Linked DNA regions of Homo sapiens: regions 2 and 3 are each reported to be linked to region 1. The links are microRNA targets in miRTarBase. Many come from high-throughput screens and were not tested one by one. Region 1 holds a microRNA gene; each other region holds the end of a gene's coding sequence.
The links. Region 1 holds the annotated microRNA hsa-miR-4252 (GGCCACUGAGUCAGCACCA, at 5,628-5,646, opposite strand). A microRNA usually pairs through its seed, bases 2 to 8, with sites in the 3' UTR of a target mRNA and lowers its output. Matches are read on the target gene's strand: a 7mer-m8 pairs with bases 2 to 8, a 7mer-A1 pairs with bases 2 to 7 and ends in A, and an 8mer does both.

Region 2: the mRNA of PRXL2C is a reported target of hsa-miR-4252. Seed matches in the 3' UTR shown: 8mer at 4,712-4,719.
Region 3: miRTarBase lists CBX5 as a target of hsa-miR-4252. Seed matches in the 3' UTR shown: 7mer-m8 at 6,891-6,897, 8mer at 4,526-4,533, 7mer-m8 at 1,951-1,957 and 7mer-m8 at 516-522.

Annotation. Positions count from the first base shown.
Region 1 is chr1:6,424,217-6,434,986 of GRCh38, forward strand. MIR4252 (microRNA 4252) reads right to left here and starts at 5,680; the gene lies at 5,618-5,680. It overlaps ESPN (espin), which reads left to right and starts at 560. Exons shown (of 13, transcript NM_031475.3): 1 at 560-1,033; 2 at 4,010-4,203. The coding sequence starts at 740. RefSeq lists enhancers at 1-503, 4,342-4,461 and silencers at 500-659, 690-739.
Region 2 is chr9:96,634,737-96,645,506 of GRCh38, reverse strand. It overlaps PRXL2C (peroxiredoxin like 2C), which reads left to right. Exons shown (of 6, transcript NM_153698.2): 6 at 3,621-5,930. The coding sequence ends at 3,748. Among named protein-coding and RNA genes, the nearest start is that of PRXL2C, 15 kb to the left of the region's middle.
Region 3 is chr12:54,233,621-54,244,390 of GRCh38, forward strand. CBX5 (chromobox 5) reads right to left here. Exons shown (of 5, transcript NM_012117.3): 5 at 1-8,285. The coding sequence ends at 8,135. Among named protein-coding and RNA genes, the nearest start is that of MIR3198-2, 7.5 kb to the left of the region's middle.

The DNA.
Region 1 (10,770 bases):
CTGCCCTCCCCGCTGGAACCTCTGGGGGCAGTTCTCGGATCTGGAGGGACCCTGGAAGGCAGGGCTCTTTGCAATCTCCGGGGATTTCGACCCAGAGCCCTTCAGGGACGTGGCAGGGCTGCTCCTGCCTCAGGGCCGTTGTCCTCGTGCTCCTCACCCCGCCTGGAATACCCTTCTCGCCGCTCAAACCCAGCCCCACGGCACCTCCTCAGAGACCTTTCCCTGTCCGCCCACGCGGTCCCGACAATCACTCCCCATCACCTCTGGAATTGCGTCGCCGGCGCCTGGAACCGCAGTTAGCGGGCACTGGGCAGATGAATGAATTTGTCTGTGCCTGGACGGCTCTCCAATTCGAACCCAGTTTTGCTGCCCTCTGGGGTCTCAACTGTTACGTGAGGCAAATTAGGAGAGAAGCCCCTGGGCACCTTGCCCCAGTCGCACGAGTGTCCCCGCGTCGCGGCGGGGGCGGGCGGGGAACTCGGGCGGAGGCTGCGGGGCGGGGCGGGGCGGGGTGGGGGCGGGCCCGAGTCTTAAGCCGGCGTCCGCGGGCTCCGGCCCCAGAGCGCGGCGGAGCGGAGCGCCAGGCAGCGCGGAGCGGAGGCCAGGCCCACAGCCGCTCCGCCTCCCGGCCCGCAGATCCCCGACGGCCGCACCGCGGGCTCCTCTGGCCCGCAAGAACACGTGCATGGCGTCCTGGGGAAGGCGCTGAGTGCGGAGTCGCGGCGCCGCACGCGGCACCATGGCCCTGGAGCAGGCGCTGCAGGCGGCGCGGCAGGGCGAGCTGGACGTGCTGAGGTCGCTGCACGCCGCAGGCCTCCTGGGGCCCTCGCTGCGCGACCCGCTGGACGCGCTGCCCGTGCACCACGCGGCCCGCGCTGGGAAGCTGCACTGTCTGCGCTTCCTGGTGGAGGAAGCCGCCCTCCCCGCCGCGGCCCGCGCCCGCAACGGCGCCACACCGGCCCACGACGCCTCCGCCACCGGCCACCTCGCCTGCCTGCAGTGGCTGCTGTCGCAGGGCGGCTGCAGAGTGCAGGTGGGTCCGCGCGGTTCGCCAGGGGCACTGAGGCTTCCTCCTCAGGACAGAGTCCTGGCCCAGAGTCCCCCGGGGCTCAAGGATGGGTGGGGTTTGGCACCTCCTGGCCCAGCTGAACCCTGCACGGAGCTCCTTCCAGAGGCCCTCAAGTGAATGGGCTCCCTGGCTTGCCAGTACTGGGGCAGATGCCCTGGCGAGCCTGGGTGCTCCCTGGAAGCGCACCTGGGTGATGGGAGCCAGAAGGGAGGGGCCTCCGTGGGGCTTGTGGTTACTAGTGTGTACCGGGAGAAGCAAAGCACTGATCCTGTAGTCCTGGAAGTGGGTGGGACGTGAGGCCTGGGCAGCAGAGTCAGACGCCCGTGTCCTCCAGGACCGGATCTGAAAGGAGGCTGGGCAAAGTCCCACAGCCCACCCGAGGCTGAGATTCAGGTGTCCCAGCCAGGGTGTGGGGGAAGGGTGATGAGCCGTGGTAAATGGGGGTCTCCCCATAACCCAGGCTGACCCCAGGACATCAGTGCTGTCAAGCTGTCAGCTGCTTCTCCAACCCAGGCTGATTCTTGCTGCCTCCAGACCCCACCTGGTCACTCTGAGCAGTGACCTCCAAGGGGAGTCCTGGCTGCTGAGAAGCAGGTAGCCAGGCAGCGGTGGGACAGTTCCAGGCACAGGGAACAAGAAGTGCAGAGCCCTGAGGCATGCACGCTCTTGTCCTGTCGGAGGGCCAGCCTCAGGCATCATGTTCAGAGTGGGTGAGGAAGGGAAAAGCTGCCAGGGCCAGGCCAGAGAGTATCATAGGCCGAGGTTAGGGATTTGGATGAAATTCTGGGTGTGGGGGCAGCCATGGGAGGGAGGAACCACAACCGATTTCCACTTAGACCACTGGGTGACCTGGAGATGGAAGGGGAGGAGTCAGGGTAACTCTAAACTGGCTTACTATGCCCCAAAGATGGCCAGGCCAACCCCACCTTCTGCCTTCAGATAGCAAGCCCCTCTTCCCACCCTTCCTGGGAGATGGCCCACCTGCTATCTCTCAGTGGGCCCTGTTACCAGGGCTTCCTGGCCAAGTGGCCCATGCCCACTCTTTTGGGCGGTGGCATGCCTCCCAGATCCAGTGTCCAGCCCTGGCCAGAAGCCTCTCTGGCCAGTGCAGAGGAGCTGGGAGAAGCAGGTGGCCTTGGGCCCAGCTTATCGTCTCCTGCCCTCTGGGCTGGGCAGGCTTGGGTGTGGGGGGAGAAAGTGTGGGGGGGATGACCTGGATCCTTGGGCTTGCCCAGCCCAGAGAGATAAGCTGCTTTAGGGTGTGGTCCACCACGCACGAGGCTCCTGGGGCCTGGACACCTGGACAGCCTGGACAGGCACAGGCCAGAGCCCACAGGCCTGTGGCCCTCTCCTTACAGTTTCCACCACTTAGAGGCCCAGAGCCAGTGGGACCCCTGGAGCTTCAGACCCACAGTCCCCAAGGCCAATAGGAAGGGAGCGCCTTTCTCAGGAGCTGGGGCTTAGGTCACATTTCACCATGGTTCTGCCTGGGTGCCCGCTAGCCAGCCCCGACCTTTGGGCTCGGAGGGGACAGACTGAACCAGTCTCTGGCCCCCCCACTCCCAGCTTTCTAGCACACAGGAGGGGCCTCGGTGTTGTCCTCAGCTTCCTATGGGCCATCACATTCTCTGCCCCATCTTCCTCCCTGCCTCCTTAGCAGGACAGCCAGACAATTGCCCCCACCCCGCAGGCTGCCTGAAGACCCTACTAGTGGCCCCGGCGCCCCCAGCTCCCTCCGTGCCCTCTTTTCCTTGCATTTCTCACGGGAGCCTCAGAGGTTCTCTTCCCACCGTGATTTGACTTCCTGAGGCCTGGGGTCTCTTGCCAGCTCCTGCCGCCTCTGCCAGTCTGTAACCACAGTGCCCTCTCTCTGGGCAAGGCGGGGCAGAGAGGCTTTACTCCCTGATCCTAGTGAAGTGTGTCCACTGCATCCTGCACCCAGAACCCTGCCCACCCCTCTGTCATCCTATGTGCTTGGTGCTGGGAGGTGGTTCTGTTCCCGAACCAGTACCCACTCTGCCAAGTGCGGCAGCCTCTGTGTCTAGATGTTCCCGGGAATTCTCCTCCCAGCACAGGTCCTGTAAGCACTCCCCTCCAGCCCCTTTCTCAGCAGACACACACAATGGGGTGTGCACTGATGACACATTCAGCAGTTCTGGGCCCAGACCTCTGGCCCCACCTGCTCTGAGGTCCCCGGGGGGAGTTTTGTCCAAGCCCTCCCAGAGGCCACCACTAGCCTGCACCTAGCACCCCTGGCTGACTGCCCCGGACCCGCCCACCAGTACCCAGCAACTTCCACCTCCACAGGGGCGAGAACACAGGCTGCTCCTGTGGCTGGGCACTGGCGAGTCTGCTGGGGGAGGGGCCGGTTTTCTGCACTGAGGTTGGGTTCCTGGAGGCGTACCAAGGTGGAGGTCTCTGTTCCCACGTGACACCGAGGAAGGGTGGAGAGATCGGGGGCAAGTGTTGGATGCAGGGGGTGACCCCCAATCCTGATGCTAGCTTGGTACAGCCCCACAGCCCCCCTTCCTGGCCCTGCTCAGCCCAGTAACCCTGTGTCACTCCTTCAGGCATTCCCTGAGTCCCTGGGAGTCAGGGCTGTGGCCCTGGGCCTGGTGCCAGTCTCCTGCCGTGACAACCAGGTGCCTGTCGTGTAGGCAGCTCGCAGTCAGGACCTGCAGCCTCTGAAAACCCTGCACGGTGCTGCCTATTGGCTACGGTTCAGAGAGGGCCAGTTAGTTGCCCAAGGACAGAAGCAGGACTCAAACCCAGGATCCGCTTGACCCAAAAAAAACATTGCTGAATGAGGCCTGGCCAATCCCTCCAGGGAAGACAGAGAGCACAGAGCTACCTTCCAGGCCTGTGGGAGTCTGGGAGTGGCCCAAGCCAGGGGCGGGGCAGCAACAGGCTTTAGGACTTGAACCAGCTCTCCTCCCACAGGACAAAGACAATTCTGGTGCCACAGTCTTGCATCTGGCTGCCCGCTTCGGCCACCCCGAGGTGGTGAACTGGCTCTTGCATCATGGCGGTGGGGACCCCACCGCGGCCACAGACATGGGCGCCCTGCCTATCCACTACGCTGCCGCCAAAGGAGACTTCCCCTCCCTGAGGCTTCTCGTCGAGCACTACCCTGAGTAAGATCACCCCTCTTAAGGGGTCCTCTGGGTGGGCTGGGCCAGGGCTTTGGGGGATGCCTGGGATTTTCCACGCCTCTCTGGCACTCCAGGGCAATGATCCCTCCAGTGGCCATCCTGGGGCCAGAGGGCCAGGCCAGAGAAATGGCTCCCACTCAACATGAAATTTTCCCCTCCTGGAAAACCCCTTCTGGGGCTGCCCCCAGAGCCCTGCAAGCAGGTGCTCCCAGCATCCTCAGCTGCCCGGCCGCACACAGCTGGACCTGGGAGGCTGGGCACACAGGCCAAGGTCACCTGTTCCCCTTGGGCTGCTTCTGCCGCAGGGGCTCTCTCTGGCTCAGGCTGTGCTCATTTGCAAGACTGTTCAGGATGGAGTCGGGGGCAGCAAGGGCAGGAGCGCCTCCTAGGCCCTAGTCAAACAGGCAGAAAGGGAACCCCATCAGTTACCAAGCAGTTAAGGGAGAAAGGCCCCTCCCAGACCCCCACCCCACCTCCTGGCCCCAGAGCCCCTGGCTGGAGGCCATCCAGAGAGCATCTTGTTATCTCCTGTGGCCCCTCAGCCCGTTCCTACTATCAAGGGAAGCATGGGGATCCCAAACCTCCTGGGGAGTGGGCTGGGAGCTCCCCTGGGTGGGGTGGGGGGTCACACAGAGCAGGGGGCATGTGTGAGTCTTGGGGAGGGAGGGAGGGAGGGAGGGACTCAGGTGTTAGGTGCGCCTGGGGAGGCAGGGATCCTGGGGAAAGCTGCCCAGGGCCTGTCTGAGAGGGTAGGGTGCCAGATGCCACAGGGGTCTGAGCGGGGAGTGGGGTGCTCTGATGGGTGACCCTCATTAGTCTAAGTGGGAGCCTGAGATGTAAATGTGAATGTGGACCCAGCCTCAGGACGAGAGCAGCTTTGGTATGAATTCACTGCTTCCAAACAAACTAGGATTTGGATCATGTCAAAGTCAGTGGGATTTAGACTAGGAGGGCCCCAGGGACCCTTGAGTAGAGGGTTCCAACTGGCTCCTGTCAGCACCTCTTGGAGGCTGTCCCAGATTCCTGAGTTAGACTCTCCAGGTTGGGGCGTGGGAGCCACACCTGGGACATGTCCCCACCCTCACGGCGGTGATTCTGATGCACCTGTCCCACCCCCTCACTTCAAGCAGAGGAGAAGGACAGGTCTTGAGAGGGGCAGGTGCCCCTGATGGCGGGACCAATATGGCCCAAGTGTGAACTGGAGGACGCTGAGCCCACCTTCTGCAAGTGCTGGTGGGGACCGCCAGCCCCTGAGCCTTCCTCACTGAGAAGCCGTGATCCCTCCGTGGGCTGGATCCCAGGTGTTAGGAAGACTGGCTGTGCTGTGGAACGCCCTCCAGGGCTCCGGGGCTGGGGGACCCTGACCCCCTCCCAGGCCATGCCAGGTGCTGTGTGTGATTGGGCGCTGGTGCTGACTCAGTGGCCAGATGGCCTGGACTGATGAGCTGCCAGCCCCCCAGGAGTCACCATGAATCTCAGGGAGGTGGACAGAGGGCTTGGGCTCCGTTCCCCACAGCAGCATGTGACTCGACTGATAAGAAGGTGTCTTTGTGTGGTTGCCAGGCTGGGCTCACGCAGGAGGGGCAGCTGGGAATTGGGGTTGGGGGCTGGGGTACCCACTTAACCTCCTACCTTGGGGGTAGGGATTCCTGCTCATCAAGGCTGTGGATATGAGGGCTGGGAGCTGGGGAGGGCAGAGGCTTGAGCTGCCCCAGGACACAGGGCCCCATCAGGGGACCCAGGTGGCCCAGCTTCATGCTCTTGTGAGCCTCTGGGGCCTGCTGTGAATCGTTGTGAATTATTCACAAGGCTCAGCTCTCTCGCTGGCGCGTGGGTGAGCACTGAGGGAGGAAGGGCTCCCGGACCTGCTGGTGGGAAACTCGATCCTGCCAGGGAGGCTGTGGGTGGCCACGGGACGAGGAAGTGACACGCTGCAGAGGAGCTGGAAGGCTGGACAGCCTCGGGGAAGCTCAGCTAATTCCAGGTCTATACCTTGGGGTGTTATAACAGAAAGCGCTTGAGATTGCAGGAATGTCCTGCACGTCCCCCACACCTCCCCGTCTGTCCCGTTCATGGGGCCAAGTCTTCCCAGAAGCAGAGGACTTGTCACACTGACCTCAGGGGCTGCTGCCACGCGGGACCCTCCCTCTGAGCCCTTGTAGAAAAGAGATCTCTCATACAAAATTAGCCAGGCGTGGTGGCGCATGCCTGTAATCCCAGCTACTCAGGAGGCTGAGGCAGGAGAATCGCTTGAACCCGGCAGACGGAGGTTGCGGTGAGCCAAGATTGAGCCATTGCACTCCAGCCTGGGCAACAAGAGTGAAACTCTGTCTCAAGGGGGAAAAAAAAAGAAAAAAAAAAGGCATCTCTCAGTTGGGAGGCATGGGGCTGGCAGGAGCCGGGCTGGGCAAGTCCCAGGCTCTGGGTCTCAGGGAGATTGAGTTGGGAGGATTGGCCCTCCCGGCAGGAGCTCCAGTGGCTGATGGAGGGGAACAAGGGGTCCAGATCCCTAATCAGGGCAGAGTGAGGAGGGGCAAAGAGCAGGTGGCCCCAAGGCCGGTGGCCATCCTCCCAGGAGGGTCCTGGAGCCCAGGAGCTCACTCTGTCCCCCTCACACCTGCTTCTGGCTGCCCCAGGGCCTGAGCAGCTGGGCAGGGCTGTGGGGGTCAGGGAGCTGGGGATCAGTTGGGACCCTGAGGCTTAAGCTTCCAGGCTGGGGAGTGAGGAGGCTCCAGGCTCTTCCCCTGGGCTCGTGGGTGCTGCCAGTCACAGCAAGCTGGAAAACCAGTTAGCCCAGAGATTTTATCAACTTCAGCAGGTGCCTCCTTCCCCGAAAGCCTCCCCTACCCCCGACCAGACTAGACTGGAATGGGATTGGAAAGTACCTGGGGCTGGGTACGGTGGCTCATGCCTGTAATCCCAGCACTTTGGGAGGCCGAGGCAGGTGGATCACCTGAGGTCAAGAGTTCAAAACCAGCCTGACCAACATGGTGAAACCCCGTCTCTACCAAAAATACAAAAATTAGCTGGGCATGTGGCCGGGCTATGCCTGTACAGGTGGCCCATGCCTGTAATCCCAGCTACTTGGGAGGCTGAGGCAGGAGAATCACTTGAACCAGGGAGGCGGAGGTTGCAGTGAGCCCAGATCATGCTATTGCATTCCAGCCTGAGCAACAGAGCAAGATTCTGTCAAAAAAAAAAAAAAAAAAAAAAAAAGGAACGAACGAAAGAAAGGAAGAAAGGAAGGAAAGAAAAGAAAGAAAAGAAAAAGAACCTGGTGCTGAGTATCTTCTAGGGGTCTGGCACCACCCAGTGTCATCTGAGCCACACAACCACCCCGAGCAGTAGCTATGTAATCAGCCCATTTTACAGATGGACTCATTCAACTAATGTTTATTGAGCATCTTCTATGTGCCAGGCAATATTCTAAATGCCAGTGATATGCTGGTGAACCAGACAAGCTTCCCTGCCTCGTGGAGCTGACAGGTACAGAAATGGTGTTTTAGAGAGGCTGATTCACCAGCTGTGGTCACCACTGGCTTGCTGTGTGGCCTTGAGCAGGCTGTACCTCCTCTCTGGGTCTCTCTCCCACTCCTGGTCCAGGTCCTAATCACTCAGGGCCTTTCAAGTCCACCGGAGACTTCCCCTTTTCCCTTCCTTTGTGCAAGGCTTCATGGAGCCTGGCTGCTCCCACGGCCCAGGGGTTCAGGCAGCCCCCACCTGGGACAGAAAGGGAGTTTCTTGGGAAGCACCAGCAGCTCTCAGCTTAGAGAGCCCCAGGGCCCAGGGCTCAACTCTCCCCCTTAGAAGGCTGGAGGCTGTGCCTGGGGTGGTCCCTTTCCCCACTAAGCCCCTGATTCTGCCACAGGCCGTGGGGGCTCATTCCTTTTTGATCACCAGCTCCAGGTCTACCCTTGGTGTCTGTCAGTTCACCTGGCAGCAGGGCGTGGGGGCAGGGCCTGTGTCCGCACTGAGGAGGTGGCTGCTGTCCTTGACCCCCTGACCTACGTGGAGGCTCTGGGAAAGGAAGGGCCTGGTGGAGTCCGGAGCAGCCCCTCACAGCAGGAGACCATCTCATGTCTCCACCAGCAGCTCCTGGTCCCAGCTGTCGTCTAACCGGGGCTAGTGCCCCTGCCCTACCCTTCTAAGGGGGAGAGCTGAGCCTTGGACCCTGGGGCTCTGTAAGCAGCACACTGCTGGGGCATCCTAGGGCTTCTGAGAAACCCCCTTTCTGCCTCACGTGGGGGCTACCTGAACCCCTTGGGCTCAGCTGGGCCATGGGAGCAGCCAGGCTCTGTGAGGCTGTGCACTACAGAACGGAAAAGGGGAAGTCCCCAGTAAGCCTGAAAGGCCCTGGCCTTCACCCGTCCATGTCCACCCGCAGCCTTTGAAAACACAAGTCCTGCTGGGTGCGGTGGCTCACACCTGTAATCCCAGCACTTTGGGAGGCTGAGGCGGGTGGAACACGAGGTCAGGAGTTCAAGACCAGCCTGGCCAACATGAAGAAACCCCGTCTCTACTAAAAAATACAGAAATTAGCTGGGTGTGGTGGCACGTGCCTGTAGTCCCAGCTACTCGGGAGGCTGAGGCAGGAGAATTGCTGGAACCAGGGAAGCGGAGGTTGCAGTGAGCCAAGATCGCACCACTGCACTCCAGCCTGGGCAACAGAGTGAGACTCCATCTCAAAAAAAAAGAAAAAAGAAAAGAAAAGACAGTGCAAGTCCTGGTCTGGTGCAGTGGCTCATGCCTGTAATCCCAGCACTTTGGGAAGCTGAGGCGGGCGGATCACGAGGTCAGGAATTTGAGGCCAGCCCGGCCGATACGGTGAAACCCCATCTCTACTAAAAAATACAAAAATTAGCCGGGCATGGTGGTGGGTGTCTGTAATCCCAGCTACTTAGGAGGCTGAGGCAGGAGAATTGCTTGAACCTGGAAGGCGGAGGTTGCAGTGAACTAAGATCGTGCTGCTGCACTCCAGCCTGGGCGACAGAGCAAGACTCCATCTCAGGAGGAAAAAAAGTTAGCCGGGTGTGGTGGTTCCTGCCTGTAGTCCCAGCTACTTGGGAGGCTGAGGCATGAGAATCACTTGAACGCAGGAGGCAGCGGTTGCAGTGAGCTAAGATTGTGCCACTGCATTCCAGCCTGGGCAACAGAGCAAGAATCCATTTCAAAAAAAAAAAAAAGAACAAGTCCCATCACAGGCTTCTGACCACTGACAGGGAAGGCTGCTCACTTCCTTACAATGGCCCAGAGGCCATCCCTCCTCCGGGCTGTGGTCCCATCCAACAGGCCAGCGCCCCTGCCTTCACAGAGGCTGATCCCTCTGCAGGGATCAGAGATACCCGCCTGCACCCTGCCTTCCTCCAAGTCTTTGCCCAGACCTCACCTCAGCAAGGCCAACCCTGAGCCTTGCTGAAATTGTCAACCGCACCCATGATGCCCACTCACTCTCCCACTGGCCTTGTTCCCTGCTGCCCTTTTTCTTTGAGACTTGAGTCTCGCTCTATCGCCCAGGCTGGAGTGCAGTGGCACGGCTCACTGCAACCTCCACCTCCCAGGTTCAGGTGATTCTCCTGCCTTAGCCTACCGAGTAGCTGGGATTATAGGTGCATATGGCACCACACCCGGCTAATTTTTGTATTATTAGTAGAAATGGGGTTTCACCATGTTGGCCAGGCTGGTCTCCAACTCCTGAACTCAGGTGATCCGCCCGCCTCGGCCTCCCAAAGTGCTGGGATTACAGGCATGAGCCACTGCACCTGGCCTCCCAGCTGCCCTATGGTTGCCTGGCTTTGCGTTCTGTGTGCATCCTGCGTGACAACCAAAAGCTAACCCCTAGGAGAAACCCCTGAGACACATTCCATCTCTTCACTCCCTGCATGCCCGAATTTCCAGCCAGGCCCTTCATCACACAGACAGATGTGTGTTTTCATCCCATCTGTCCCTGACTAATGAGGCCAGGGGCTTTGTCTTCCCGGCTCTGTATGCCCAGAGCCTGACTCCAGTAAACGTCTGCTGAATGAGTGGGGTATGGAATCCCAGGGACTTGTCCACTCTGCCTATAGCTCATTGCATGTGACCCTAGACAAAACTCCCCTCTGAGCATTCCCAAGCCTGTCTGGCAAGTGGACCTAACCTGCCCTACCAGCCTGAGGCCATGAGTGAAGAGAGATCCCCTACTCCTGGCCTGGATGTCCCTTCTCATATTTATTCATTCAACAAAAAGCAACTGGGTGCACCCAACTGCCCGGCCCGTCATCACGTCAGCCATACATTCTTCTATCCATGTGTGTATGGGTCTGAGGAATAGGAGAACAAGATAATTCAGGAGTGACAAGTGCTGTGTAGTGAAATGAGCAGTTTGGTAGGAAGCGATGGGGATGGTTCTTGAAATTGAGGGGTCAGGGAAGCCAGGTGTCTTTGAGGAGAGGAGAGCTGAGACCCTAATGAAAAGAGGGTGGGCCTCGCAGCCCTGCCTTGATGGAACTGGCAGTGATGCGGGGAGGTGTAGAGGCCTCAGGTGGGGTCAAATGTGGCCTAATTAGGGGC
Region 2 (10,770 bases), not on the chromosome of region 1:
CCATTTTCTTCATAAAGCAGACACCCTGTACAAATGGACATCTTGGCATTACAGCCAGGATGCTGTGCTTTTGTAGGGGGGCATCTTTTGTTTTCAAAGGCTTCTGTATATTTTGATGTTTATGTATTTGATGAGCGTGCCCATCATCCCATGCCTAGATGATTTCCCACAGTCACCTGTGGGCTGGCGATCTGTATATGGCTGTCACACACTCCGCTATTTAGGAATGTTCAGTGGAGATGAACATTTCTGAATAGGGGAAAATCGTCACGTGCCTTTTTTTTCAAGAAAAGAATCCAGCCGGGCGCGGTGGTTTACGCCTGTAATCCCAGCACTTTGGGAGGCCAAGGCGGGCGGATCACGAGGTCAGGAGATCAAGACCATCCTGGCTAACACGGTGAAACCCCGTCTCTACTAAAAATACAAAAAAAAATTAGCCGGACGTGGTGGCGGGTGCCTGTAGTCCCAGCTACTCGGGAGGCTGAGGCAGGAGACTGGCGTGAACCTGGGAGGCGGAGCTTGCAGTGCGCCGAGATCGCACCACTGAACTCCAGCCCTCCAGCCTGGGTGAGAGAGTGAGACTCTGCCTCAAAAAAAAAAAAAAAAAAAAAAAAAAAAAAAAAAAGAATCCATGTAGTTATTTATACCTAACAAAACTAGGAGACTTACTCAGTGTCAGCAAGTTAGTCAGTGCTAGGGACAGCTCATCCCATAAGATTGGGATTGAGGCCGGGCATGGTGGCTCACACCTATAATCCCAGCATTTTGGGAGGCTGAGACTGGTGGATCACTTGAGGCCAGGAGTTCCAGACCAGCCCTTGGTGAAACCCCATCTCTACTAAAAGTACAAAAAATTAGCCGGGCGTGGTGGTGCATGCTTGTAATCCCACCTACTTGGGAGGCTAAGGCAGGAGAATCACTTGAACCTGGGAGGCGGAGGTTGCAGTGAGCCCAGATCGTGCCACTGCACTCCAGCCTGGGTGACAAGAAGGAAACTCCCTCTCAAAAAATAAAAAAGAATGGGATTGAGGTCCGACTATAAGCCACACACTGTTAACTTTATTGATGGGTGTGGACCACCTGAGATTGCTTTGGCTCGTCTCTGCTAAGTGTTTGAACAGATGTATTTGAACAGATGTAGGGATTGTGGACATCTAAGTGTATTGTAACTGATTAGATCTCTACTGTGTTCCAGCATTGCAACAAAGGACAAACACCCTTATCAGACAGGGCCCAAAAGCCTAAATCACTATGTTGTAAGACCATCTTTTTGTTTTTTCTTCCTCTTTAAAACTGTCTGCTTAATGAGCATAGCTTATAAGAGTTATATGAGTAATATTTACTTTGATAAATACCTTTTTTTTTTTTTTTTTTTGAGACAGAGCCTTGCTCTGTCACCAGGCTGGAGTGCAGTGGTGTAATCTCGGCTCACTACAACCTCCGCCTCCCGGGATCAAGCGATTTTCCTGCCTCAGTCTCCCTAGTAGCTGGGACTACAGGCGCCTGCCACCACACCCAGCTAATTTTTGTATTTTTAGTAGAGGCAAGGTTTCACCAGGTTGGCCAGAATGGTCTCAATTACTTGACTTCGTGATCTGCCCACCTCTGCCTCCCAAAGTGCTGGGATTACAGGTGTGAGCCACCACACCCAGCCAATACCATATTTTTTAGAAGGAGGGTTTTGACTGAGTAATATGATTTTTGGGCTTTTTGCAGCTGGAACATTGTAGCCAAAATCTCCCTTTGCCTCCCTCTCATGAATTTATAACAGATTCGTTATAAAAAGAAGCCCTGATGAATGAGAATGAATCCTATGCATTAGCCCAGAATGACATTAGCCATATTTCTGAACAACTTATTTCCATCCTCATACCCAAAAGGGGATGTTTTTGAGTCCCTTATCTCCATGTCTCTGAATCATTTGTCCACATCTTCTGTTGTGTAAGAATAAAGAGTACATGGGCTGGGCGCAGTGGCTCACACCTGTAATCCCAACACTTTGGGAGCCCAAGGTGAGCAGATCACAAGGTCGGGAGATCGAGACAATCCTGACTAACACGGTGAAACCCCATCTCTACTAAAAATATAAAAAATTAGCCGGGTATGGTGGCATGCACCTGTAGTTCCAGCTACTAGGGAGGCTGAGGCAGGATAATCGCTTGAACCTGGGAAGTGGAGGTTGGCAGTGAGCCAAAATCACACCACTGCACTACAGCCTGGGCGAGAGACCAAGACACTGCCCCCAAAAATAAATAAGTAAAGAAGAAAGAGCACATGGAGAGCATCATTTGTGTGCCAACTTGGGACCATTCAGTCATCCCTCAGCATCCATGGCGGATTGGTTCCTGGACCTGCAGTGGATCCCAGAATCTGAGATGCTCAAGTGTCTCACATAAAATGCTGTAGTATTTGGATCTAACCTATGCACGTCCTCCCCTGCACTTTAAATCATCTCTAGTTTACTTATAATACCAAATGCAATGTAAATAGTTGTTGTACTGTACTATTTAGGGAATAATGACCAGGAAAAAAAAATGTCTGTACATATTCAGCAGATATGCAGCTATCCTTTTTTTCTGAATATTTTCAATCCGTGGTTTGTTGAATGAGGATGCGGAACTCATGGATGCAGAAGACCAGCTGTGCTTAGAAAACATGCCTCATGGCCGGGTGCAGTGGCTTACACCTGTAATCCCAGCACTTTGGGAGGCCGAGGTGGGCGGATCACAAGATCAGGAGATCAAGACCATCCTGGCCATCTGGTGAAACCCCGTCTCTACTCAAAATACAAAAATTAGCTGGGCGTGGTGGTGCAAGCCTGTAGTCCCAGCTACTCGGGAGGCTGAGGCAAGAGAATCGCTTGAACCCAGAAGGCGGAGGTTGCAGTGAGCCGAGATCATGCCACTGCACTCCAGCCTGGCGACAAAGCGAGCCTCCGTCTCAAAAAAAAAAAAAAAAAATGAAAACGTGCCTCATACACTTAATCTAATGGTTTAAGTTAAAATTCTGGTCTTGAGTTCAAGAATCAAACAGAAACTAGATTGTAAATTTATGATTATAAATTATAAAATCTGTATTTGAACAGATGTAAGGATTGTGAACATCTAAGTGTATTATAACTGATTGTCTTTTAAGGCCTTATTTTAGAGCCTCTTTTGGGCTATGGTTATAATACAGATAGCCTGTTAAATCAGTATTTCGGAGTGGATTTTTTGAAGTGAGTGATTTATTTCCTTATTATATTTATTCTATTATTAGATTTAAGAAACAGATGTGATTTTCCAGCTTGATATCTATGTGAGTTCCGTATTCTGCCCGTCTGACAGGACATTTTATTTAATTATATTTAATAAAACCTAACAGAAGGTTATAATTTAAAAATCTTTCCCCTTGGATCTCATAAAACATCAAGTATGGCTCTTATTTAACCATAATCCTTGTCATACTTTATTACCATGATTTAAAATTATTATGGCATTATATAGAGAATATAATGCACTCCAGGTAATTAATTTTTCCCTTTGGACTAATTAAAGGTTGAAAAGCTTCCTTGATTTTAGTAAGCAGTAAATCTGATGAATAATACTATGCCTCAGCCTTTTATTCTTATTCTCTTCTAGGTAACAACATCCATTTTATACACCGCGATAGGAATAGGTTGGATCACAAACCTATCAACTCTGTTTTACAGCTTGTAGGAGTTCAGCATGTGAACTTTACAAACAGACCTTCAGTTATCCATGTGTGACTTAAAATGCACTCAGTCACTTTCAACTGGACCTTCTGGAATGTGACCTTCAATGCCTGGGTGTAATATCCTCGTGCAGTGTCTAACCTGCTGTCCCTTCCCAGCCTTTGAGGAGTTAGGGAAGCATAAAGGGGGCTTGAACCTGTTGAATTGCATGCTGGGAAGCATCAGTTGTCAAAATATGTTATATACTTCCATTTTATAACTTTTAACATTTTATACAAAAAAAATGAATATACAAAATATAACTTTAAAAGCTATAAAATCATAAATACTCTAAATTATTTTACATTATGGTATATTCAGTCAATGAAAGAGTTTTTTGGCAATATAAATTCTGACAGTATATAAGGGGACAGGAGAACAACACAAGACCATTATATTCAGTGAAGAAGGCAAAATATCAAATCTGTCAACAATGTAACTGCATTTTTATATGTATATATTTGTATTTTTGTATGCTTTGGAAAAAGACAGGAAATAAACACCAAAATGTTGCCAGTAGGTATCTCTGTGTTAAGATTAGTGTTATTATTTTCTTTTCTGTACTTTTCTGTATTTCCCAACTGTTATATAATGAGCATGATTAATATTGTAGGGCCAGGAAAAGGTCTTTAAACATTATAGGACAATTTTATGCCACATAACAACCTTCACAAAAGAGCAAAATTATATAAGCTGTAGTCCACTTTTCCATCGTAATTGCTTTACTCAGAGGAAGTGTGGCAATCCGAACATTTCACATATAGCCAGTGTCCACAGCACCTTCTCAAACTACATACTTGCTATCCGTTTCACTAGGATTTTGGGGGGTTGGGGGAGCTATGGAGAAAAAAATTGTTTTAGATATTTAAGATATGTATTTAAAAATATGGTCAGTGTGCTTTTTGAAAGGGAACTATAAGAATTTTTTTTTTTTTTTTTTTTGAGATGGAGTCTCACTCTGTTGCCCAGGCTGGAGTGCAGTGGCATGATCTCGGCTCACTGCAAGTTCCGCCTCCCGGGTTCACGCCATTCTCCTGCCTCAGCCTCCCGAGTAGCTGGGACTACAGGCACCCACCACCACGCCCGGCTAATTTTTTGTATTTTTATTAGAGACGGGGTTTCACTGTGTTATAACAGCCAGGATGGTCTTGACCTCCTGACCTCATGATCCGCCCACCTCGGCCTCCCAATGTGTTGGGATTACAGGTATGAGCCACCTTGCCTGGCTTTTTTTTTTTTTTTTTTTTTTTTTTTTTTGAGATGGAGTCTTGCTCTGTCGCCCAGGCTGGAGTGCAATGGCTCAATCTCAGCTCACTGCAACTTCCGCCTCCTTGGTTCAAGCAATTCTGCCTCAGCCTCCCAAGTAGCTGGGATTACAGGCACCCGCCACCATACCTGGCTACTTTTAGTAGAGACGGGGTTCCACCATGTTGGCCAGGCTGGTCTCGAACTCCATACCTCAGGTGATCCGTCTGCCTCGGCCTCCCAAAGTGCTAGAATTGCAGGCGTTAGCCACCATTCCCGGCCAAGAATTGTTAAAATTTTTTAAAACTTGGTAACTTAAATGTACACTATGGTTTAGTTATGCATTCCTAGAGAACTGCTATTTCTCACCCTCAAACTGCTCTTATTTGGGAGACTTGTTATCTTTCATTTTTCTAGAATTTTTTTTTTTTTTTTGAGACGGAGTTTCACTCTTGTTGCACAGGATGGAGTGCAATGGCACGATCTCGGCTCACTGCAACCTCCACCTCCCGGGTTCAAGTGATTCTCCTGCCTCAGCCTCCTGAGTAGCTGAGATTACAGGCATGCGCCACCATGCCTGGCTAAGTTTCTATTTTTTAGTAAAGATGGAGTTTCTCCATGTCGGTCAGGCTGGTCTCGAACTCCCGACCTCAGGTGATCTGCCTGCCTCAGCCTCCCAAAGTGCTAGGATTATAGGCATGAGCCACCGCGCCCGGCCTATTTTTCTAGAATCTTAATATGTTTAGTTGGGAGGTGTCCCAGAAATCCTGATGAAAAGTATAGCAAAATCAGAATTTTGGTAATGATTAGCAAGTATAATACTGCTTTGAACTCAGTACTTTTATATGAAGCATATAAAGTTACAAAAAAAACTAATGTATTCAAATATTTGAATATATCTTCATGTTTGTATAATGTTTTTATTCAATAAAAATGAAATTTCTCATTTAAACTATTTTGTGCTTTTTTTATATACTAAAGGTGACCTTTGCTGATTTTAGACTTCATACTGCTGAATCACATGCTTACACAAAAATTATATACAGTTGACCCTTGAACAACATAGGTTCTACACGGGTCCAGTTATATGTAGATTTTTTTTTCAATTGAAGTTATACCAAGTGTGGGCCGGGTACGGTGGCTCACGCCTGTAATCCCAGCACTTTGGGAGGCCGAGGCTGGCGGATCACGAGGTCAGGAGACGGAGACCATCCTGGCTAACGCGGTGAAACCCCCGTCTCTACTGAAAATACAAAAAATTAGCGGGACGTGGTGGAGGGCGCCTGTAATCCCAGCTGCTCCGGAGGCTGAGGCAGGAGAATGGCGTGAACCCGTGAACCCGGGAGGCGGAGCTTGCAGGGAGCCGAGATGGTGCCACTGCACTCCAGCCTGGGAGACAGTTATACCAAGTGTGCCTGGCTCCCCTGTCACCTCTTCCGCCTCTGCCTCACTTGAGACAGCAAAACCAACCCCTCCTCCTCCTCCTCCTGCTCCTTAGCCTACTCCAGGTGAAGATGAGAATGAAGACCTTTTTTTTTTTCCTTTCTCAGCACATCGTGTCCACTACCAAGAAGGAATTATAAGGCATATGAAAAGACAAAAAACAATTTGAAAAGACAGAACGAGCACTAGAACCAGATTCAGATATTGCAAGAATGTTGGAATTAATCAGACCAATTTTTTTTTAAACTATGATTAATGTGCTCAAGACTTTAAAGGAGAAACACAACATCCAAGAACAAATGAGTAATGTAAGCAGAGAGATGGAAAGTCTAAGAATCAAAAGAAATGCTAGAAGTTAACAACATTGGAATAGAAATGAAGAATGCCTTTGATGGGATTATTAGTAGACTGGATGTGGCTGAGGAAATAATCTCTGAGCTTGAGGATATGACACTAGAAACTGAAAAGCAAAGGCAAAAAATACAAAACAAAATCCAAGAACTGAGAGACAACTACAAAAGACATAACATGAATCATGGGAAATCATAAGAAAGAAACTAACAGAAGAAATATTAGAAGCAATAAAGACTGAAAATTTCCCCAAGTTAATGTCAAACATCAGACTGTAGATTCAAGAAATTCAGAAAACAGCAAGCATAGTAAATGCCAAAAAAAAAGACACCTAGGCATATCGTAGTCAAACTTCAGAAAATCAAAGATAAAAAATCTTGGCTGGGCGCAGTGGCTCACACCTGTAATCCCAGCACTTTGGGAGGCCAAGGCAGGCAGATCACTTGAGGTCAGGAGTTCGAGCCCAGCCTGGCCAACATGGTAAAACCACATTTCTACTAAAAATACAAAAATTAGCTGGGTGTGGTGGCACATGCCTGTAATTCCAGCACTTTGGGAGGCTGAGGCGAACAGATCACCTGAGGTCAGGGGTGATCAGCTTGGCCAGCTTGGCCAACATGGTGAAACCCCATCTCTATCAAAAATACAAAACTTAGTTGGGCACGGTGGTGTGTTCCTGTAATCCCCACTACTTGAGGGTGAGACACGAGAATCACTTGAACCCGGAGGCAGAGGTTGCAAGGAGCCAAGATTGCACCACTGCACTCCAGCCTGAGTGACAGCATGAGACTCTGTATCAAAAAAAAAAAAAAGAAAAGAAAATTTGAAAGAAGGCAGAGGGAAATAAACCACCTTACCTATAGAAGAGCAAAAATAAGAATTACATCCAACTTCCCCTCAGAAACCATGCAAGCAAGAAGAGAGTGGAGTGAAATATTTAAACTGTTAAGAGGAAAGTCACCAATCTAGAATTCAGTACTCTGCAAAATTATCCTTCAATAACTTTCTAACAGGAGGAAAAAAATTATCCTGTGAAGGATAACTAAAGACATTCTTCAGACAAAAAATGAGGGACATTGTTGCCAGTAGACCTGTCATGCAAGAAATTTAAAAGAAGTTTCTCAGAAAGAAGGAAAGTGATACAGATTAGAAACTCAGATCTACATTAAAAAAAGGAAGGGCATTGGAAAATAAGTGAGTGAAGGTAAAATACTTTTCTTTTTCTTTTTTTTTTTTGAGACAGAGTTTTCCTCTTGTCACCCAGGCTGGAGTGCAATGGCGCGATCTTGGCTCACTGCAACCTCCTTCTCCCAGATTCAGGCGATTCCCCTGCCTCAACCTCCTGAGTAGCTGGTATTACAGGTGACTGCCACCAAAACTGGCTAATTTTTGTATTTTTAGTAGAGACAGGGTTTCACCATGTTTGCCAGGCTGGTCTCGAACTCCTGACCTCAGGTGATCTGCCCACCTCTGCCTCCCAAAATGCTGGGATTACAGGGGTAAGCTACCACGCCTGGCCTTATTTTTCTTATTCTTAGTTGATCTTACAGATAACAGTTCAAAATAATAATACCAACAATGTATGTGTGTTTATGTGTGCTTATGTATGTATATATATTTATATATAGATATGCTTACATATGCTTATATATAAGTGAATGACACTTACATATAAATGAATAACAGCAAAGATACAAGAGACAAGATGAGGGAATTAGAAATATTTTGTTATTGCCGGGCACGGTGGCTCATGGTGAAACCCTATTTCTACTACAAATACAAAAAATTAGCTGGGCATGGTGGCGGGTGCCTGTAACCCTAGCTACTCAGGAGGCTGAGGCCAGAGAATCGCTTGAACCCGGGAGGCGGAGGTTGCAGTGAGCCGAGATCGTGCCATTGCACTCCAGCCTAGCCAATAAGAGCGAAACTCTGTCTCAAAAAAAAAAAGTATATGAATGGAGAAAGATTTAATGTGCTAACACAAATAAAAAGAAAGTGGGAATAGTTATAGTGCTCTCAGACAAAGCTAAGTTCAGAGCAAGGAAAGTTATCAGGGATGAAGGGAGCTATTACATAAGGATGAAGGGGTCAGGAGTCAGTTCCTACTGAAGACATAGTAATTCTCGATGTGTATGTTCCTGACAACAAAGTAAAACCTGATAGAACTGCAAAGAGAAATAGATGAATCCACTGTTATAGGTGGAGATTTCAACACCCCTCTATCAGAAATGGATAGGTCCAGCAGGCAGAAAATCAGTAAGCACATAGTTGAACTCAACAGCACCATCACTAAACTGGATATAATTGACATTTCCAGATTACTTCATCCAATAGCAGAATAGCACACATTCTTCTCAAGCTCACATGCAACATGCACCAAGATAGACTGCATTCTGTACCCTAAAACACACCTTAACAAATGTAAAATAATAGAACTCATAGCATGCCTGCTCCCAGACCACAACGGAATTATACTCAAAAGCAATAACTGGAAAAATCCCCAAATACTTGGAGATTAAAAACATACTTCTAAATAACACATGAATCAAAGAAAAAAAAATCTCAGTGGGGCATGGCAGCTCACGCCTGTAATCCCAGCACTTTGGAAGCCTGAGGCAGGCAGATCACTTGAGGCCAGGAGTTTGAGACCAGCCTGGCCAACAGGCAAAACCCTGTCTCTACTAAGAATACAAAAATTAGCTGGGTTTGGTGGCACACAGCTGTAATCCCAGCTGCTTGGGAGGCTGAGGCAAGATAATGGCTTGAACCAGGGAGGCAGGGGTTGCAGTAAGCTGAGATCACGCCATTGCACTCCAGCCTGGGTGACAGAGCAAAACTGTCACAAGGAAAAAAAAAGAAAATGAAGACCTTTATGATGCTCTGCTTCCACTTAATGAATAGAAAATATATTTTCTCTTCCTTGTGATTTTCATAATAGCATTTTCTTTTCTCTAGCTTACTTTATTGTAAGAATATAAGTATGTAATAAATATCACATATAAAATATGTTATTGACAGTTTATGTTATTGGTAAGGCTTCTGGTCAAAAATAGACTATTACTAGTTAAGTTTTTGGGAGGCCCAAAGCTATATGCAGATTTTTGACTGTGTAAGGGATTGGCACCCCTACCCCCAACATTGTTTAAGGGTCAATTGTATTTATAAATGTGCACCACATTTTTCTAAGATAAATACATGTTCTTTATGTGGCTTCAGGGAGGTACAGGTACATAAGTGTAGTGCAATGGCAAATTGCCTACCCAAACACATTTTTTAAATATAAAATTACCTATAACATGTACTGTTAACTTTATAAACATACTTCCATATCCAGTCATATACTGGACTTGAAATTCTGAAGAACCTCTCTCACAAATACATGGAGACATTGGATAAAAATAAATAATATCATCAAACATTTTATGGTGGTAATGATTTGTTAGGTACTATTCCAAGTGCTTTACATACATTAACTCTATGGAACTGATATTGTTATCATCACCATCACCATTTTGCAGAGAAGAAGCAACAACTTTTTTCAAGCTGAGCTTACAACAAAGTGAAGAAATGCCACTAGGGCCGAAAGCGAGCAGAAGCTAGGCTGAAGAGCATGCTTGGAAGCCATGGACTGCACTGCAGAGCAGGAATTCATCCCAGGAATTAGAGAAGGTTATTCTTTGGCCAATTCAAAGGTCTGGGACAGTAGAGAATTAAAACTAAGGCTCTAGAGTAAAGTAGGACCTAAGACCTGTGCCTGAGACTGGAAACTTTTGAAGGGCTAAAACCTTGTAAGAATAAGGTCAAATCCATCCACATCCAAGGAATCTAGTGAGGAAATTCATTGTATGGCTTGTGTGATGAACTGCTATGGAAACAAGAATTTCAATAAAATGAAAATGCATGGTTTCATTTTTAAAATCAAATATTTTGTTGTTTTTCAAGAAAACTGATGATACACTAGCAACCTGCATAAAATGTTTGTTCACATTACCATTTAC
Region 3 (10,770 bases), not on the chromosome of region 1:
CAACACATACAGTAAAATGTTCACTAGGGGCCGGGTGCGGTGGCTTATGCTTGTAATCCCAGCACTTTGGGAGGCTGAGGCACGTGGATCACTTGAGCTCACGAGTTGGAGACCAGCCTGGGCAACACAGGGAGACTGTCTCTACAAAACATTTTTTAAATAATAAAATTAGCCAGACACCGTGGTGTGCGCCTGTAGTCCCAGCTGCTTGGGAGGCTGAGGCAGGAGGATCATTTGAGCCCAGGAGATTGAGGCTGCAGTGAGCTGTAATAAAGATACTGTGGCCGGGTGCTGGCTCACGCCTGCAATCCCAGCACTTTGAGTGGCCGAGGCAGGCGGATCACAAGGTCAGGAGTTCAAGACCAGCACGGCCAAGATGGTGAACCCTGTCTCTACTAAAAATACAAAAATTAGCCGGGCATGGTGGCAGGCGCCTATAATCCCAGCTGCTCAGGAGGCTGAGGCAGAGAACTGCTTGAACCCGGGAGGCGGAGGTTGCAGTGAGCCAAGATCACGCCACTGCACTCCAGCCTGGGCAAAAGAGCAAGTTTCCATCTCAAAAAAAAAAAAAAAAAAAAAAAAAAAAGGTTCAATATGGATACTCTAGGTACAGGAACCATTCCAAGACCTAAATAGATTTTTTTTTTTTTCCTCACTGATAGCTGATCACATTAAACAGGTACAGGTGCTAAGAAAGTTTAAGACTGATCTTTTGGCAATGACAGTTTAGGTTAACTCTGTTTGGAATTCCTAAAAATAAAAAGAAATCCCTTAAAAAAGGCTGACAAACTGACCACTTGGCCTTGAATCGACTGTTAGGGTCACACCTGCCAATGCCAGGGGACATCACAAAAAAATAGAGAATGCCAAGATAAAAAGTTCACTGCATTCAATTTGGCCTAATTTCTTGATAATAGTTTCCTATTAGATTTTCCGATTAATACTGATGGCTCTTACCTAGGCTGTGATAATTAGGTTTTGATCTATTGTGACATTAATGATCACAATCAGTTGACTTTGAAATTGTCTTAATTAATGGCTCTTTCCTTGTCAGCTTTTGCCTCCAGTGCAGGATTCATTCCCTTCCCCACTGCCTTGTTTTAACTCCTTCTCTTACTGACCTCAGAAACAAATAGCATTGGAGGATCACTTTCTTCCCATAAAACAAGACTTTAAACTATTTTAAAACATTTCTCTTGACAGAGGAGCAATATGAGATGATGTTAGATGAAATGAGGATCAGAATGAAAAGGCAAGAGAACAAGCTGTCAATGAACAGGAAAAATTCCATCTTAGAAAACAACCAAAGTCAAGCACAATGTTAAAGTGACAAGTTGAAGTAACTCTAAAAAGACAAGATGAGGTAGATTAAAATCCAAGAAAGTCAGCACAAGCAAAAAGAAACCAGAATTGTTTTTATGAAACTATCTAAAAAACTTCACACTTTAACTTTCCAGAGCAGTTACTCTAATTCCTGGGAATTCTGACTTCCAAAGTTAGTCAACTCTCAATTATCCAGGCAGAAATAAATATCTTTTTCTTGTGGTCATCCATGGGTCAGAATCGACAACATCCTTACGATCAGACTGTTTCTTAACCCAGCTACGCTTCGATGATTAAATCTGAGACTCAGATTTAATATACAAGGTATATGTATTTCTGGCAAAGGTTTCCACATAACTGATACAATTCTCTGCTTAGAAATCACCCTCTCGGCCCGGCGGTGGCTCACGCCTGTAATCCCAGCACTCTGGGAGGCCGAGGTGGGTGGATCATGAGGTCAGGAGATTGAGACCATCCTGGCTAACAAGGTGAAACCCCGTCTCTACTAAAAATACAAAAAATTAGCCGGGCGTGGTGGCCGGCGCCTGTAGTCCCAGCTCCTCGGGAGGCTGAGGCAGGAGAATGGCGTGAACCCGGGAGGTGGAGCTTGCAGTGAGCCGAGATTGCGCCACTGCACTCCAGCCTGGGAGACAGAGCAAGACTCCGTCTCAAAAAAAAAGAAATCACCCTCTCTCCAGTATTGAATAAAACTGCACTGCTCAGAGTAGATGCTCAGGTATTAACAGATGTGCTCCAAGACTTCTCTTTAGAAAATCTCTTGTCATTGGAAAGCATGTCCGTTTTAGGCTTAAAGGCAGTTAAGTCTCATGTTCATTCCTCCAAAAGGGATGAGAAATTGAAAAAGGTGTGAGCAACTCTGGTAAAGTGTCCATGAGGAATATGTTGTTATAGAACCCACAATAATGTAACACAACTGAATCTGCAACATAGTTAATGCTTTCCACAAGCAAAGATTAACTCTACCACTACTTTGGCCAAGAATCTAAACCAGGGATGAAAATCAGGAGTTCTCAATCCCAACTCACCTGTTTTCTCTCTCAGTAATAACAGCATTTCCAACCCTCCAGCTATATTTATTTCCTGGAATATGTTCTTGTGTTCTATGGCCAGCTGGCTCAGTTCACCCAATGTTATAGGTCTTTTCCACATATAGGCCGAAATTAATGTCAACTTCTTACTCCAGGGCTACAAACTATACAACATCAGCCAGTCTGTCTCTGCCCCCAAGTCAGAAATGTGTATTGGTTTATAGCATTTATTATACCAAACTATTTTTTTTTTGAACAGAAACATAGCTTGTAAGCACTTAAACTATTAATGGTCAGTTCATCATACACCAGTATGAAAGTTATTTGAGGGCAGGGATGGCCTCTTTCTGAACCTTGTATCTTCAGGCCAAAAAAATGTCTGTTGAATGAAACCAATGTTGATGTACAGCAATGTGGCTGGAATTTAGAAAGCTTAATAAAAATTGGGTGAGGGGGCATCTAATTCAGAACATGTTTTTGGGTGTAAGGCTAGTATCATCTACTTTTGAAAACATAATTTTTATGATTAGCAGGTAAAGGTAGCATGAAACTGCAATACACTGGCTCCAGACCTTTCCTCTCTGCCTTGCCACAGGCATGCTTGGTGGTCTGATTACAAAAGTACGGATCTCAACACTATATTTTTTATTCTAAAATCTCAACCAAAATGATGGGATCATGGGTGCAAAGTGGGTTTTTCCTTTAAATTGTGAGAAACCATTTCCACATTTCAGATCTAACGGTGTTCTCATGACATTGCAAAGTAGTATTTTATGCCCTCAAAACTGAACCTTAAGGTAGAGACAATTGCTCCCCGGGCCAAACACAGATCCCTCCAACCCCTCACTGTACCTTAGGAAAGCTGGGGTAAACTACAGATTCAACAAAATCTCAATAAGAAAATCCCAAAAACCTTCCCCAATGCCCTGTGGTTTGGCCTGAACATAGGGAAAATGGACTGCTGGGTGGCTACAGAACAGGAATGAAGAGTTAAGAATAATAAATGCCTAAGTTACAGGGACAGAACCAATCTTTCATTAATGACACAAAGTAGAATGCACAAAGTAGTATGCAGTATGGCTGGGGGACAGTCAAGGACCATCTAGACTTTTAATTGTTAGAAGCACCACAGGTCCAAATGCTCCCCAGAGTGGACCAAAACTGGATTTTGTCCATGGCAACACTGTTCTCCACTATTCTGTCTATAATGAGAATATATCAATAGCAGGAAATCTACTTTCACACATGGCAAACCGCGAAGAAAAACAAGGATAACCTCAGACCACTTTTACTTGCTGTAAGTGGGAAAAACAAACAAACAAACAAAAAACCCCAGCAAATAAAGGATTTTCCATGAACAGAAAAGCAAATATAAATGCAGTTGATAAACTAGAAAGCAATCATCAACTAATTGCAGACTATAAAGATACCCAAAAATCCTTCTCAAAATAGCACCCCAGTGGATGGTAGTCAAGCTTTCCAGCAACCAGTTATTGATGATTCATGGCCTACATCAAATGAATAAGACTTCGATTTTTGATACCAACAATGTCCCCAAACCAAACTTAACAAAGCTAATGACTGCTTCTCAGTAATTCAGGAAAAATTTAGAAATATAGCATTGTGAGCAAAAAACAGAAGCTTGTTTTGGGGACAGGAATTCCAAGAGTCTGAGTGAAGATGTGGTTGGAAGCCTTCTCAAACATGCAAGTCCAGGGCTTTTCTCATCCTGCCTTCCCATCACCTGACCCTCCTCTGAAACCACCCCTCAAGTCTTTAGCAAAGTCAGGTATTACAGAGGACAGAGCAACAAAGAGGGCAACTGGAATTTAAAAAAAATTGTATTACTGAAAGTGCTCCATGAGAGCAAACAAATAATGACAATTTTATTTTTGTCCACAAAAATTTAATAGAGGTGGCCAGGCACGGTGGCTCATGCCTGTAATTCCAGCACTTTGGGAGGCCAAGGTGGGCAGATCACAAGGTCAGGAAATCGAGACCATCCTGGCAAACATGGTAAAACCCCATCTCTACCAAAAATACAAAAATTAGCTGGGCATGGTGGCACACACCTGTAGTCCCAGCTACTCGAGAGGCTGAGGCAGGAGAATCGCTTGAACCCAGGAGGTGGAGGGTACAGTAAGCCAAGATTGTGCCACTGCACTCCAGCCTGGTGACAGAGCGAGACTCTGTCTAAAAAAAATAAATAAATAATAGAGGTGAATGTCTGCATTAGGATCAAGACAAGAAGAAGACAGACAATCACTTTGGAATTCTGAGACTACCTCCAAGAATCATCCACGGAAGGATGTCAGCCATTTAACCAGGGCTACGGATCAAAAAGGAAAAAATACAGTCAGTGGACAAGTAGAAGAGTCTCCTGAAAAATATCCGTATTTGAAAAGGCAGCAGGAGTTGATAGAAAACATAACTAAAAAAGTAGAAGACACTGTTAAATTTGAATCTGGATCCTATATAGCTTCTTCTCTGGGATCTACTGAGGAGTGAAATCTAAATGAAGATTTAGCTTAGAAAGCATGAAGATAGTATGTTCCAATTTTAAATAAAAATTATATTGTCTGAAAGACAATACAATTTTAGTACTGGGGGAAAAAAAACTAGATTGTTATTTGAAGAAGAAAACATCATGGTTCTCTCCAGGTTTAAAATGGGTGCTCCCATGTAGGCTGATTTTCCCGGCATTTGATCTTAACTTGAAGGCCATCTGCCCAGCCCAGCAATCAAAGGGCTGCTAAGCTGTCCTTGGTAGCCTCTACTGGGCAAAGCTGTGCTATAACTCTGAAGAAAGGGAGATCTTTTAATGTTGATTACTGAAAGGCTTAGAAAGATGTCTTGAAAGAGGACTAAACACAAGAAAAATAAATTTTTAGCATTTGAGACTTAGGTGTTTAAGAGTGCTTAGCTCTTAACTATTAACTCTTCTGAGGGGAGAAAGCTCCATGAAACAGGTTTCTGTTTGAGGCTGTAATTCTTCTAGGGCAAGAACATCTACTCAACACTAACAAATGCTGGAAGCAGGCATCTGATTTCCTTTGTGCTAAGGGCTGAAATCAATACTGGCCTCTGGCTCCCTACATTCCTATAGAACCAGCTGCAGGTAGGCAGGAAGAGAACAAAAGTTGTTTTGGCGGCACTCAGTACAATAAACCGAAGACAAAAAAGACAGAGTAAAGTCTATTAACAGATGGTAAGTAGTAGATGATACTGGGGTTATTTCGGTAAAAGAATATCAGATTTTTATGAATGTCTTAAATATTACCTATAACCACAGCAGCCACATGCCCCAGGTTTCTCAGAACCAATCTCAGTACCAAATATTGTCATGTTCTTTGTCCACATACTAGGTTTTTGGTTTTAAAAATAAGGTCGCTGCAGTTTACATGCCCACTGCTACTGGGAGGCATACACTGGGCCACTTGGATAGGCTGTCATTTTCTGCAAATCAAGAGACCCATATCACCTCCTCAGGAGCTCTGGCCTATTTTTGTCCTATTCTTGTCTACCCTAATTGATATCCTTGGCTACATTTATGATAAATGTTTCCTGACCATCCTTTCCTTCTTTTAGATACCGATCAGATTAAGTACAAGCAATTGTCAATTATCCAGCACTTGATCTAGGCCTTTAATTCCTTCAGAGAGAGAAGGAATATAGAGATAAAACTCCCACCCACTTGAGGTATGGTTTATGAGCTCTTGCCCAATCACATTACCATTCAGAAGGATTTTCCTGGCTGACTTAAACCAAAAGCTTCATTGTTCCAGTCTGTCATGTCACTGCAGCAACAGCTGTCACCTCAATTATGCAGTATAATTTTTGACATAATTTATATAAGCACACAGAATTCAATCAGCAGCTGAGCAGGGAAGCAATGTTAACAAATGCTATGAATGGGTATATGATTTGCATATTATGTGGCTCATCTGTGGACTGGAGCAATCCATCCATTCCCCTCATTACTCTGAATAATCTAGAAATGGTAGATGCTCCTGGCCAGACAGCTGTATGTTTTAAAAATCAAAAACAACAAGAAAAGCAGCCTCATGGCTGGTGCGCTCTAGAATTAAGGCTATATTAAGCATTTATTCTTATTTCCTCAGCTTTGGGGCTGGGACAAGGATCCTCAAAACCCTGCTATTTCCTTACTTTTAATTGTGATTCTCTAGCCCTCCTCAACTACAAAAAGAAAAGGATAAAGTAGGGCATTTCTTGGGGGACAAAGGCAGAAGGATATGATCAGACAAATTTCTCAATAGCAACACAAGAAGAAACCAAAACGAAGTATTTTGCTGAGTAAGAAGAAAAGGGTGTGTCAACATGCTAATGCCAGGGCCTGTCACTTTCCAAGGTGACAGTCTTTCAGGAACATGCCTTTATTTTTATTTATATTTTTTAGAGACAGGGGGTCTCACTACATTGCCCAGGCTGGTCTCAAACTTCTGGCTTCAAGCAATTCTCCTGCCTCAGCCTCCCAAAGTGCTGGGATTACAGGCGGTAGCCACTGTGCCTGGCCATGAAAATTCATTTTAAAAAATAAGATACAACTATAAGTTTGAGGGTAGAAAAAGGGAAGAGCATTAATATTTTGGGGACTCTTGGTGGTAAATCCAGGAGCCAAGAATGCAGGAGACATAACTGCTATGAACACTTAAAATTGATATTGTGGCCAACAGCTCACCTCTAAAACTTCCCCACTGAAAATAATGGCATGGAAGGGAAACTCGGGTCCACTGAGAAGTGAGGGTCAGGTTTGAAGCCTCTTTGGTAACAGGAATGCTTTGGGAGGCCACAAAAGTTGGCAGGGTTGGAGGGTGCCTAGCACCTTGGCACAAGCAAGCACCAGGCAATCACTCACACCTACATAAATATACAGTCTAAATATGAGGAATGGAAAGAAATCATACATACATACCATATATGATAATAAAGACAATTGTACCCTACCCCATCATCCTCATGTACTATAGCTACAAATCTGCACAGTTAATAATCTTGTCATTTTATCACAAATTGATATCACTTTACAGAAGCAGAAGTGGGGAGTGCTAAAAGCAATACCGAAAGTCCTGGGGCTAAAAAGAGTGTCTTGACAGATTTCAGTGTAAAATTTCAAATCTTCCAAAGGATGGAGTAATTCTGGGAGGATGAGTGAGGATGAACAACAGAGGGTGGCCCAGAAGACCACACCAGAAACCCTGTATTCTCCTGGGTAGAGCTGAACAAGGTTGGGAAAGCCCCAACAGGTAGGCAGTTGCTATTGGCTTTTTAACAGATGGGCAACATCCTTTCCATCTCAACATGTCAGAACAAAGGCCAGCTAGTCAGCAACATGTTCTAAGAACCAAAGCAAGAAACCAAAATTCAACATCATTGTAACAAAATCCCCCAACCTAAAAAGCGACCAACCCTGAAAAGATCAAGACTCTAAGGTGATTAAAAAGTTGAAACTCATCTTGAGGTCACAGGGAAGCAGAAGGAAGAGATCAGGGCAAAGGAAAAAAAAATTGTGGGTATTACACTCAGTATGTAAATGCCTGGTCTTCACAGAGAGACACTTATCATTAATCAGACCATCAGTTATGTTACAAGAGAACCAATACCAACATTTCTCCTGTGGAGCACAGTGATAAGCACATTTTTTATGGATGTGTTTAGGATAGAAAGGGGTGGGTAGAAAGGAGAGGAGGCAGGGAGGTGAATGTATTATGTACAAAGAGAAATGACAGAGACCATCCCCTCCTTTAGCTCTTTGCTGTTTCTTTCTCTTTGTTTTCCGCATCCTCAGGATATGCATGCCATGTCAGTCTCTCTTCATAAAATGCTATCACAATTTGTGGACATTTCACATTAGCTTCTTTTGCAAGAACCAGGTCAGCTTCATCTGTGTCTTTCCTGGAGAGAAAGAATATGAGACTTAAAAGGAGAGGAAGAGTGAAAGAATCTGTCCAGACATACGTTTATGTCATTATATGGATTTAGTTGACTTGATTTCCTCCTCACCTTGGTTTCAAGGTGAAAAGGACCCTTTCAATATTTTCAAGAAGAAATGTAAGTAAATGGATTAATAGCTAATATATTATACAGAAACAGATGTCTGTAGCTAGAATTTAGATGTAAACCATGGTGGGCTTAGGTTAAAAAGATGAATAATAAATAATATTAATCTGCTTCCAAAATTTTTATTTGTGAATATGAGCATGTGAGTGAACCCAATCAAACCTACATTCAGGGGCCGGGCACGGTGGCTCACACCTGTAATCCCAGCACTTTGGGAGGCCGAGGCGGGTGGATCACGAGGTCAGGAGATCGAGACCATCCTGGCTCACACGGTGAAACCCCGACTCTACTAAAAGTACAAAAAATTAGCCGGGCGTGGTGGCGGGCGCCTGTAGTCCCAGCTACTCGGGAGGCTGAGGCAGGAGAATGGCGTGAACCCGGGAGGCGGAGCTTGCAGTGAGCTGAGATCGCGCCACTGCACTCTAGCCTGAGCAACAGTGCAAGACTCCGTCTCAAAAAAAAAAAAAAAAAAAACCTACATTCAGCTCTATTGATTATGCACAAGTCAATTATACACAGGTTGGTCAATCCAGTTTCCAGATCATCTAAGTGAAGGGGTCTTAACCCTCCTCACCTTGTGTCCGTTTAAATACTCATTACCCCTCTGGCCAGAACTGTGGATTGGAACAACGAGCAAATAAAAATTTAGCTACAAATTTCAATTATCTCAGTAGGGCCTCTAATACCAAGTATAACAAAAAAAAATCTAGCTACATGGTTCCTTAAGCATGATTCCAAATCAATTAAAAAAAAATTAAAATTATCCTGAGAAGCTCAGGTGCAGCAGCTCATGCCTGTAATCCCAGCACTTTGGGAGGCTGAGGCAGGTGGATCGCTTGAGCCTAGGAGTTTGAGACCAGCCTGGGCAACATGGCAAAACCCATCTCTACAAAAAATACAAAAATCAGCTAGGCATGGTGGTGCATGCTTGTGGTCCCAGCTACTTGGGAGGCTGAGGTGGGAGGATCACTTGGGCTTGGGAGGTGGAGGTTGCAGTGAGCTGAGATTGAACCACTGCACTCCAGCCTGGGCAACAGAGTGAGACCCTGTCTCAAAATAAATAAATAATAAAAAACAAAATAGAATTATCCTGAGATGTGGACAAGAAAAATTACCACCTTATTGGAGCAGATACTCAAATTTGGACTATGGTGGAAAAAGCCAATTAATGTTAATGTAAATTGTAAGTAACCACATATGGCTGAGTAGGAAAAAGCAGTCCAGCCCAGGCACAGCGCCTCATACCTATAATCCCAGCACTTTGGGAGGCCGAGGTGAGAAAAGCACTTGAGCCCGGGGCAACATAGGAAGACCTGGTCTCTTCAAAAAACTTTTTAAAAATTAGCAGGCCATGGTGGCATGCACCTGTAGTCCCAGCTACTCAGGAGACTGAGGTAGGAGGATAACTTGAGCTCAGGAGGGCAAGGCTGCAGTGAGCTGTGATTACGCCACTGCACTCCAGCCTGGGTGACAGGGCGAGACACTGTCTAAAATAAAATTTTTAAAAAGCAGTCCAGCCTCAGCGTGGTGGCTCATACCTGTAATCCCAGCACTTTGGGAAGCCAAGGCAGGTGGATTGCTTGAGATCAGGAGTTCGAGACCAGCCTGGCCAACATGATGAAACCCTGTCTCTACTAAAAATATAAAAATTGCCCAGGTGTGGTGGCACATGCCTATAATCCCAGCTACTTAGGTGGCTGAGGGATGAGAACTGCTTGAACCTGGGAGGCGAAGGTTGCAGTGAGCCGAGATGGTACCACTGCACTCCAGCCTGGGTGATAAAGCAAGACGCTGTCTCAAAAAAACAAAACAAAACAAGCAGTCCATATAGCTCCTTACTTCTGACAGAATATGGCAATTCTTCAAATACAGGTTTCTGGGTAATTTACCAGCAGTACTCTCATCAGATAAAATGTTAAGCCTTTTGATTATACAACTTTTTTTTTTTTGAGACAGAGTCTCGCTCTGTTGCCCAGGCTGGAGTGCAGTGACAGGATCTCGGCTCACTGCAAGCTCCGCCTCCCGGGTTCACACCATTCTCCTGCCTCAGCCTCCCAAGTAGCTGGGACTACAGGCGCCTGCCACCAAGCCTGGCTATTTTTTTTTTTTATTTTTAGTAGACACGGGGTTTCACCGTGTTAGCCAGGATGGTCTTGATCTCCTGACCTTGTGATCCGCCCGTCTCGGCGTCTCGGCCTCCCAAAGTGCTGGGATTACAGACGTGAGCCACCACGCCCGGCCTTGATTATACAACTTTTAAGGTAACATGTTTCTTTAGTGGCACTGCAACACAAACCCTCTATGTATCACAAATTCAGAA